3 linked regions of the Homo sapiens genome follow. The protein of the gene in region 1 purifies or fractionates together with the protein of each later gene. This does not show direct contact. Each region holds a gene or a part of one and is shown in the gene's direction. Other genes may lie near its edges.

The links. The genes of interacting proteins can lie anywhere in the genome.
Region 2: the proteins of CSPG4 (region 1) and TSPAN5 purify together in Homo sapiens (co-immunoprecipitation; one large-scale study listed by IntAct). This does not show direct contact.
Region 3: the proteins of CSPG4 (region 1) and CA10 purify together in Homo sapiens (co-immunoprecipitation; one large-scale study listed by IntAct). This does not show direct contact.

The regions. Positions count from the first base shown.
Region 1 is NC_000015.10:75,688,818-75,692,380, reverse strand, and holds part of CSPG4 (chondroitin sulfate proteoglycan 4 precursor), read left to right. Parts: intron 1-1,568; coding exon 1,569-3,563. UniProt on the Homo sapiens protein: Proteoglycan playing a role in cell proliferation and migration which stimulates endothelial cells motility during microvascular morphogenesis. May also inhibit neurite outgrowth and growth cone collapse during axon regeneration.
Region 2 is NC_000004.12:98,652,112-98,655,674, reverse strand, and holds part of TSPAN5 (tetraspanin-5), read left to right. Parts: intron 1-3,563. UniProt on the Homo sapiens protein: Part of TspanC8 subgroup, composed of 6 members that interact with the transmembrane metalloprotease ADAM10.
Region 3 is NC_000017.11:51,746,215-51,749,777, reverse strand, and holds part of CA10 (carbonic anhydrase-related protein 10 precursor), read left to right. Parts: intron 1-1,959; coding exon 1,960-2,145; intron 2,146-3,563. UniProt on the Homo sapiens protein: Does not have a catalytic activity.

The DNA.
Region 1 (3,563 bases):
TGGGAGGCCAAGGTGAGAAGATCACTCGAGCCTAGGAGTTCAAGTCTGGCCTAAGCCACACAATGAGTCCCCATCTCTATTTTTAAAAGAAAAAAATAACCGGACGCGGTGGCTCATGCCTGTAATCCCAGCACTTTGGGAGGCTGAGGCGGGTGGATCACCTGAGGTCAGGAGTTCGAGACCAGCCTGGCCAACATGGTGAAACCGTGTCTCTAATAAAAATACAAAAAAATTAGCCGGGCATGGTGACACATGCCTGTAATCCCAGCTACTCAGGAGGCTGAGGCAAGAGAATCACTTGAACCCAGGAGAAGGAGGTTGCAGTGAGCCGAGACCGCACCATTGCACTTCAGCCTGGGCAACAAGAACCAAACTCCGTCTCAAAAAAAAACAAATTTGGGGCAGCCATCTCCTTCCACACCCCATGGGGAGAGGACTAGGGCTTGGTCAGTCTGCTGCTTTCACTGTTAAACACCAGCGTGGTGCAGGCTGGTGCTGATGGCTGTCCAGTTCTGTAGGTACAATGATGCCACACCCCTACAGAGATGCTCCATACCAGGACTCCAAAATTATAGTTCTTAGTGCCCTGGTTCTGCAGTTACCATACTCTGCCACCTCCCATTCTACCATCTGGGAGCACCGTACCAGAGCCATTTCTGCTGTCAATGTCATGGAGACAGAACTATGTCCTTCATCTCTCCCCAAGATCTCCTTCCACCCCAGGTCAGGGAGCTTTTTTTCAGAACACAGAGTATTTAAATTTTAATTTAAAAATTAGCCTATTCCTGAACAGTGAGCCTGGCTGCCTTCAATGACCCCAAGAAACTTTGCTCTGTTGAAGGGGACTGATCAAGGGATTCCCAGTTACCCATTATTCCAAAGTTGAAATCCAGATTCCAAGACAATATTTCTGGCACCTCTCACTCAAGGAAAGAGGGGAAGAATTTAAAAACACAGGTTGGATTTCTAGGAGAGCATCTTGCTGTATGTCAGTTCCTTGTGGGCGAGGACCACATCTGATTCATATCAGGGTCCCCAGAGCCCATCCAGCCCTGGCCCAGAGTTTCCTTTGGTGAGTGTTTGGAGGATGAATAAAGAGATGGCAGGACGGCAAGAGGAGTGGCACCAGAGGCTCTTGTCCTAGGTTTTCCACTCTGGGGCCCCAAGTGTGGGGAACTCACTATGCTTTTTTTTTGTTTGTTTTTTGAGACAGAGTTTCGCTCTTGCTGCCCAGGCTGGAGTGCAATGGCATGATCTCAGCTCACTGCAACCTCCACCTCCCGAGTTCAAGCAATTCTCCTGCCACAGCCTCCAAAGTAGCTGGGATTACAGGCATGCGCCACCATGCCCAGCTAATTTTGTGTTTTTAGTAGAGACAGGGTTTCTCCATGTTGGCCAGGCTGGTCTCAAACTCCTAACCTCAGGTGATCCGCCTGCCTTGGCCTCCCAAAGTGCTAGGATTACAGGCATGAGCCACCACTGCAATCACGCCCGGCTCTATGCTTTTATAAGGGAAATGATGGATCCAAAGTGCTGTCCACTATCTCCCACTCCCCATCTCTCTTCAGGTCAGACTTGTTCTGGGCCAGGAGGAGCTGAGGCTGCAGACTCCAGCAGAGACGCTGCTGAGTGACTCCATCCCCCACACTGTGGTGCTGACTGTCGTAGAGGGCTGGGCCACGTTGTCAGTCGATGGGTTTCTGAACGCCTCCTCAGCAGTCCCAGGAGCCCCCCTAGAGGTCCCCTATGGGCTCTTTGTTGGGGGCACTGGGACCCTTGGCCTGCCCTACCTGAGGGGAACCAGCCGACCCCTGAGGGGTTGCCTCCATGCAGCCACCCTCAATGGCCGCAGCCTCCTCCGGCCTCTGACCCCCGATGTGCATGAGGGCTGTGCTGAAGAGTTTTCTGCCAGTGATGATGTGGCCCTGGGCTTCTCTGGGCCCCACTCTCTGGCTGCCTTCCCTGCCTGGGGCACTCAGGACGAAGGAACCCTAGAGTTTACACTCACCACACAGAGCCGGCAGGCACCCTTGGCCTTCCAGGCAGGGGGCCGGCGTGGGGACTTCATCTATGTGGACATATTTGAGGGCCACCTGCGGGCCGTGGTGGAGAAGGGCCAGGGTACCGTATTGCTCCACAACAGTGTGCCTGTGGCCGATGGGCAGCCCCATGAGGTCAGTGTCCACATCAATGCTCACCGGCTGGAAATCTCCGTGGACCAGTACCCTACGCATACTTCGAACCGAGGAGTCCTCAGCTACCTGGAGCCACGGGGCAGTCTCCTTCTCGGGGGGCTGGATGCAGAGGCCTCTCGTCACCTCCAGGAACACCGCCTGGGCCTGACACCAGAGGCCACCAATGCCTCCCTGCTGGGCTGCATGGAAGACCTCAGTGTCAATGGCCAGAGGCGGGGGCTGCGGGAAGCTTTGCTGACGCGCAACATGGCAGCCGGCTGCAGGCTGGAGGAGGAGGAGTATGAGGACGATGCCTATGGACATTATGAAGCTTTCTCCACCCTGGCCCCTGAGGCTTGGCCAGCCATGGAGCTGCCTGAGCCATGCGTGCCTGAGCCAGGGCTGCCTCCTGTCTTTGCCAATTTCACCCAGCTGCTGACTATCAGCCCACTGGTGGTGGCCGAGGGGGGCACAGCCTGGCTTGAGTGGAGGCATGTGCAGCCCACGCTGGACCTGATGGAGGCTGAGCTGCGCAAATCCCAGGTGCTGTTCAGCGTGACCCGAGGGGCACGCCATGGCGAGCTCGAGCTGGACATCCCGGGAGCCCAGGCACGAAAAATGTTCACCCTCCTGGACGTGGTGAACCGCAAGGCCCGCTTCATCCACGATGGCTCTGAGGACACCTCCGACCAGCTGGTGCTGGAGGTGTCGGTGACGGCTCGGGTGCCCATGCCCTCATGCCTTCGGAGGGGCCAAACATACCTCCTGCCCATCCAGGTCAACCCTGTCAATGACCCACCCCACATCATCTTCCCACATGGCAGCCTCATGGTGATCCTGGAACACACGCAGAAGCCGCTGGGGCCTGAGGTTTTCCAGGCCTATGACCCGGACTCTGCCTGTGAGGGCCTCACCTTCCAGGTCCTTGGCACCTCCTCTGGCCTCCCCGTGGAGCGCCGAGACCAGCCTGGGGAGCCGGCGACCGAGTTCTCCTGCCGGGAGTTGGAGGCCGGCAGCCTAGTCTATGTCCACCGCGGTGGTCCTGCACAGGACTTGACGTTCCGGGTCAGCGATGGACTGCAGGCCAGCCCCCCGGCCACGCTGAAGGTGGTGGCCATCCGGCCGGCCATACAGATCCACCGCAGCACAGGGTTGCGACTGGCCCAAGGCTCTGCCATGCCCATCTTGCCCGCCAACCTGTCGGTGGAGACCAATGCCGTGGGGCAGGATGTGAGCGTGCTGTTCCGCGTCACTGGGGCCCTGCAGTTTGGGGAGCTGCAGAAGCAGGGGGCAGGTGGGGTGGAGGGTGCTGAGTGGTGGGCCACACAGGCGTTCCACCAGCGGGATGTGGAGCAGGGCCGCGTGAGGTACCTGAGCACTGACCCACAG
Region 2 (3,563 bases), on another chromosome or scaffold:
CCAAAAACAGCAGACTCGGTGCTACTCCCATACAATTATGAAGAAGAGATTGCCAACAGCATGGTTTCCTAATTTTCATTTTCACACTGAACTGCTAGACTACATTTGACATACACTGGTGACATTCAAAGGTATAGTTCTGGTAAAATAAAATTGAACATATGGTGGCACCAGCACTGAGAGCTTGGTTCTTTTCCTGATCAGCAGTTTGGCTCTTCATCAGTTAACTGCCTGGGCCTCAGTTTCTCAGCTGTTAAATTGAAGGAGGTGGATGAGTTATAACGTTCTTTCTAGTTCTTACACAGAATGAGTTTCTTGAGTTCCAATATGCTGGAGAAGAAAAATAGAAGAGTTTGGCCACTAATTTATAACAGAAGTAGTATATACCAGGACACGTGATAAATTATAGACATTTTCTGTTAGGGAGACTTGTCTGAAGACTAGTTTTATTACTTTCATTTCTTCCTCAAAGATCCTTTCATAAAAAACAAACAAACAAAAAACAAAAAACAAAAACAAAAAAAAACCAAGGCTGGGCGCGGTGGCTCACGCCTGCGATCCCAGCACTTTGGGAGGCTGAGGTGGACGGATCACAAGTTCAGGAAATCAAGACCATCCTGGCCAACATGGTGAAACTCTGTCCCTACTGAAATACAAAAAACTAGCCAGGTGTGTTGGCGGGTGCCTGTAGTCCCAGCTACTCGGGAGGCTGAGGCAGGGGAATCACTTGAACCCGGGAGGTGGAGATTGCAGTGAGGCAAGATCACACCACTGTACTCCAGCCTGGCAACAGAGCAAGACTCCGTCTCAAAAAAAACAAAACAAAGCAAAACAAAAAACCTTTCACTAATTTCTTCTTGGCTTGTTCAGTTCCTGGTATAGTGTCCGTGCTTCTCTCTCCCCACTGTGAATCTCAAATGTAGTCCTGTGAGTCATTAAATATATTTTTATTATTAGAATTACAGCTTCATGTATAAAATCTGAATCCTTTTATATAACAGTTGTAATGACATTCTGAGTAACAAAGTCAACATCTTGTACAGATTCCTTTCTCATTAGTTATCACAGGCTGGTGGGGGAAAACTTGTTTCCTCTGTTATATATTGGAACAATTCAAGACAGAAGGGAATTGATTTTATTGAGGGTGTCACCGTACTGGGACATTTCTCAGAAAACCCTGAGACTGCTTTGGGTTTGGGGGAGGGAGAAGAAAGAGGATTTTGTTTTAAAGTCATTTCTTTGGGGTACCGAACACCACATCCCATCACTCATCATTAATAGATGTTTTGCCCTTTTGGATTCTGGCTTTTAACTGTTTTGGATTCTGGATACTTAACTGTTCCCAGGCAAGTAAATTGATCTCAATATTCTGGTTATTTATTGCTACATAACCTCCAAGCTTAGTTGTTTAAAACACAGTTGTTTATTATTATAGTTCACAGTTCTGTGATTTGGCCAGGCTCATCTGGACAGTTCTCACTTGGGGTCTCATACAGTTGTGGTGAGATGTAGTTGGAGTTGGACTTACCGGAAGGCCCTCTGGGCAGGATGCCTGAGATGGTATACTCATATGACTGGAAGCTGATGCTTGCTGGGAGCTTAGCCAGAGTTGTCACTGGAGCACCTACCTACACGTGGCTTCTTCCTGTCTCTAAGTCTTAAAGAAGCTTCCAGCCAGTTAAGGTTCCACTTAGAACTGGCAGTGCCACTTTTATCTATTCCATTGGTTAGAGCACTCATGCAGACTGCTGAATTTCAAAGGGTGAAGAATTAGAAGCCACCTTTTGATGGAGAAGTGTCAAGGTCACATTGCAGAAAGTCATGTAGGTTGTGGCCATCTTTGAAAAATATAGTCTACTGTATTAAGGCACTGAGCCTTAATTTCTTGTTTATAAAGGAAAGATAACATTAATGGTGTTGTAGTTTTAAAGATTCAGTGAGATAATGTTTTATTCGGCATAATATCTCAATATTTAACAAATAGTGAATATCATTACTGTTGTTGTCTCCAGATTTTATACTGGTTCCATACAGGGCTATAGAACTTCTAGAATGCCTTAGTCTAGTACTTTGGCATCATTACTACTAGGTAATGATAATACCCTTAAGATCTGCCAAGAAGATGAGGCAAATGGATTCAATAGATTTTATAGTGACTTGTTAGGAAAGAACTCAATGGAAACGGTGGAATGATTTGGGAGAACCAAGTCATTTTTCTGTTTTCTTTGCTACAAAGGATTAGAAAAGCCTCAGTTACTTGAGGCCAACTTTCTCTTTTGATATGCTTTCAGATATTACCTTGTGTCTTTAAGTGCAAGTTTATCCAGGGTTGATGGCAGGATCTTGCCTCTAATTTGCTTCCACAGGGCTTAATTCAGAGAGGAGGGAGACTCAGGAAACCTTGGGGCGGTGGGGGAGGGGGGGCATCAAGTAGGAAGCTTTATCTTATGATTCACTATAAATTGCAAGATGTTCTGGAATGATGATACATCAGCAGTTTATAAGTCATAATTTTTGTTTTAATTTGCTAGACATCTGTTAGCTTCGATGGCAACCATATGGGAATCTAAATTGCGTTTTGAATTACAGGGAGATGGTAGGAAGAAAGCTAAATATGGTTATGAAAGTGTCATATGGGAAAAGTGTAAGAAAGGTATAAAGTGGGGAAAGTAATTGAATATAGGCTTGCTTAGTGTGGCCACTCCCTCTGTGGGGCAGTATGAAGGCGCAGAAGCATTCTCACTTGATATACTCCGCAGATTGAAATGAAGCCAAGTGGGGAGAAGTTGGAAAACCAAATCATGTTTCAACCACCATAAACTTGCCAAAATGTTGCACTCATTTAGATGGGTCACTTTGTTTTAATGTCCACAGTAATAGGTAGTCCCTGGCAAAAGGTGAAAGCAATCTGCATTTTTAACAGAACTTTTCACTAATGATGTTTTTCTTGTAAGCACCCCAAAGAGTCTTCCAAGAATATTATATCTTTGTGACAGATGAAGAAATTGGAGTACAGAGATGTGGAGTAACTTTTGAGGTGTTGAAGAGCATGTCAAGGTTCAGTTTCAGAGTGTTAAGTCTCTTCCGTAATGATAGCCCCAGCTTTTTGGGTGGAGACTTATTTTAGAAGATGCTTGTTATTCTAAAATAAAACATCAAGTAAGTCATTTACATCTGTTCATAATCGAAAAGTGATAAAGTTTTTGCATATGCCACAATTAACACCACCCACAAGCACAAAAAAGTTAGGATGAAAATGTTCTTCAAGAATATGGTGGAATAATTGTAGCCTATTGAAAATTCATAAATGAAAATTGGAGTATTGTAGACAGCATTCTTGAATCACATGTTTGTTTCTGTGTGTAATACTGATGACTGTCTTAAAATTTCTAACTTCCAAATAAATCATACTCCACTGGATTATAAGGGCTTCAAGTGTGGGGGCTGTCTCACTTTCATAAGCCCAGTGTCTTGCGCATTGTCTGAAACACAGTAGATGTTTTGATAAACGTTTGGGCCAGGCTTGGGGGCTTACACCTGTAATCCCAACACTTTAGGAGGCT
Region 3 (3,563 bases), on another chromosome or scaffold:
CCTCAGTCCTCTCTCTCTGATCTGACTTTCTCTGCTTAACAGTATGGTTGGCACTCAGGCGACCTTGCAGTTCAGGAACTCAACGGAGAGTTTCTGTTGATAGTTCCAGATTTCACAGGAGAAAGAAGATGACTGACTTAGTGTCTATCAGTTCCCTTTTGCTGCATAACAAACCACCCCAAAATTTAGAGACTTAAATAATCATTTAGCTCCAAGCCTATGGGTCAGTGGACATTTCTGACCTGGGCCAGGCTAAGCTGATCTCAGCTGGGCCAGTCAGCTAGTGGATCAGCCACAGAGTAGCCCGTCTAGACGGCCTCTCCTGGGATGGCTCTCCTCACTGTGGCCCCATCCTCCAGCAGGCTAGCCCAGGCTCATTTGCATGGTAGTTTCACGGCTCCACGAAGAAGTGAAGAAAACACGCATGCCCTCAAGGTCTACTCTCAGGACTAGCATGTTGTGTGCAGCACATGCTGTTGGCCAAAGTAAGTGACAAGGCCAGCCCAGACTCGACGTAGAGAAATAGCCTCTTATCTAGATGACAGCAGTTACAAAATTACATTGTTGGGAGTGTAGTTATAGGGAGGGGAAGAATTCCTGTCATTTTTGTAAACTGCACATAATCTCTAGGGGCCTAGGCTGACATGAGCTCCATGCAGTCGCTGCACCACATTGCCATTTCCATATAATGCCATTGGTCGATGTACCAGGGAAAGGTGAGTCTGGGGAATCCACTATTTCAACCTGGAAGTGACACTTGTCATGACCCCTCCCAACCCATGGCCCCTATCAGTCACATGGGCTCCATTCTACAGTAAGGTGGCAGGAAACAAAATGAGTCACTGGAATATTTGGTGAGCATTATGGTCTCTGCCACAGTGAACAACTCAAGAGCTAATCATTCACAACACCAGTGTCAGAAAGGTGGAAAAGAGGCAGGTAAAAGATAGTGCTATAGAGCACATATATGAAAACCACATCTAATGAAGGTGTCAGAAGGTACAGGAAGCCCTTCAGGAATCACTAGGGCTGAAGGCTTGGCCCAAAGTCAGAGTAAGCAGGAAGAAAATCCAAATAGTTCAGCCTCCTGTAACCCAGAAACACTCCTTCCAGACTCATTCAAAGTCTCCCTAAGCTCTAGATCCTACTCCCAGAGCTAAGTCAACCCAAGAGAGTAAGAAAGTAGAGTTTCAGATGGGAATGAGTGTTCTAGAATCAATTGTTGTTGAGGTCACAGTCAGGAAAATGAAGCTGAACATCAAGTCCCAGCAAGAAAAGAAGGAAAAGGAATGCCAAGCAGTCATGTTAGCAGTTTGAAGGGGCTGGAGCAAGATGGAATCAGGAATAAGGAGTAAGTCTAGGAATCTATGAAATTGGAAGTTTGAGTGAATCCCTTTAGTTTACCACTTGAGGCCCACAAGCTATGAGGATTCTGTGCAATGTCTGGTTGCAGGGCAGGACACACCAGATAGGACGCTTGAGAATTCAGACCTAGGCTTTCCATCTCCCATGAGCGTCTGCTTCTAGTCACTCATTTTCTCTTCCCTGTCTCATTTGGCCTTCTTAATATCTCACCCCTTGCTAACTGCTTTCTCCAATTTCTCACAGCTGAGATTTAGAACTCTTGCAGTATCTTTCCATTCCAAATCCTTATAGTAAGAAGGACAAATTCATTTTTTATAAAATACAATGCACAAAATATTAATCACAAATGATGAAAAGTCTCCTTCAAGTTCTTACCTCAAATTCCTAAGCCATCATGTGGTTTATGCCTCACAGAAATTACCATAGATCCCACATATACCCTCTGGGGCAGCTGCCACGCCCTACTCCACATGTGGATTTAGCCCATCTTCCCATCAAGAGGAAGCAAAAGGTGTTGATCCAAGCACCATGCTGGGTTTGGGGAGGCATAGAAGAAGGAGGGCCTTGCTTGACCTGTTGCTAATTGCCTTGCAGGTCAGTGGGACCATGTACAACACTGGAAGACACGTATCCCTTCGCCTGGACAAGGAGCACTTGGTCAACATATCTGGAGGGCCCATGACATACAGCCACCGGCTGGAGGAGATCCGACTACACTTTGGGAGTGAGGACAGCCAAGGGTCGGAGCACCTCCTCAATGGACAGGCCTTCTCTGGGGAGGTATGTTAGTCTGTCAAAGTACTAAGGTTAAATGTCAACTTATAAGATTGGGTGCCTGTTTGTGTCCAAGATGGGATAACATAACAAAGGGATTCGCTCTAATCTATGAAATGAGAAGGCCCATGCCTTCTTTCTCCATCTGTCTTTTGCAAATTGACATCGAAGTCAATAACAAGCTTCTAGTATTTTCCAGGGAAGGCTACAATGAAACTAGCTCTTTCCTTCTGAGACAATGTTGCAGCTCTCTTGAGACTCATGTCCAGTGATATTTCTAGAGCATTATTTCAACCCCAAATCCTCACCTTATATATATAATACATCTTTACTTACACCTATCTGGGCGATCAGCCTCTCACGTGTCACATATGATAGCACAGATTCCATAACTTTTCTTTTGAATATAATGAGTCATATTTGCATAAAACTATAACATACTGTGAAATAAGTGTCAGGCAACTCAATAGTTTTCCTGAGTTTCTGCAAAATGGAAACGTCACTGTGTGCCACCATCAACCCAGACAGAACTCAGGCCACAGCAGAGAGCCCAACCACAGTTTCATTTATAGGACAAGAGCTACAGTTTAAACAGTTGTCATCTGTGGTGTGACACTTCACAAGTAGGGTGTAGGTAATTTGATCTGTTTTACCCCCGTTATACTGGAGGGTGTTTATGAACTAGAGATCAGGGGTCCTTACAGGCTAAATGCCCTGTGACTAGGTTTCTGCTTAAGAGTCCTCAATAACTGATGTTAGGAAGGCTTTGAAATTACAAAAATATGTATTGCATGTGGTGTTTTTATTTTTTTAAAGATCATGTATAAATCTGGCCTTATTTTTAGTGTGTTAAGGCCAAGCACTAAGAAACAGACCCACAATCTTAATGAGTCCAGCAGCCAGATTTTAATGTGCATCCAAAATGTGTCACTAAGAGCCTGCCTAGGCACTCAGCTAGTTACCAGGGATACAGAGATTTAAAAAAAGGGCTCCTACCACAGAGGAGCTCAAAGAGTGCTACATTCAAGTCATTAAAGTATAATGTCATGCTGTAATGGGGATGTACAAAGGCCCTGGCAAACTCAAAGGAAGAAGTGGTAAATTTTGCTTGAAGGGGTCAGGAGAAGCTTCACAGAGAAGGTGCCCCTTGAACTGGGCTGTAAAGAGAGGCAATGATGAACAATTTTAAGACCATCAGCTTTGGAGTCCAGTGACCTGAGTTTTGTAGTCTTGCTTTGATACACACTGTGTGATCTTGGGATGTTACTTGAGCCTTCTAAGGCACAGTTTAGACACCTCCATTTTAAAAATTAAGTGGGATTCCAGATGTAAAAACACTGAAAGTACTCAATGATTGATAAACAACAATGACAAAGCAGGAAATGAGGGCTAGTGCGAGCAAAAGCCCCGAGGCATGTCAGGGC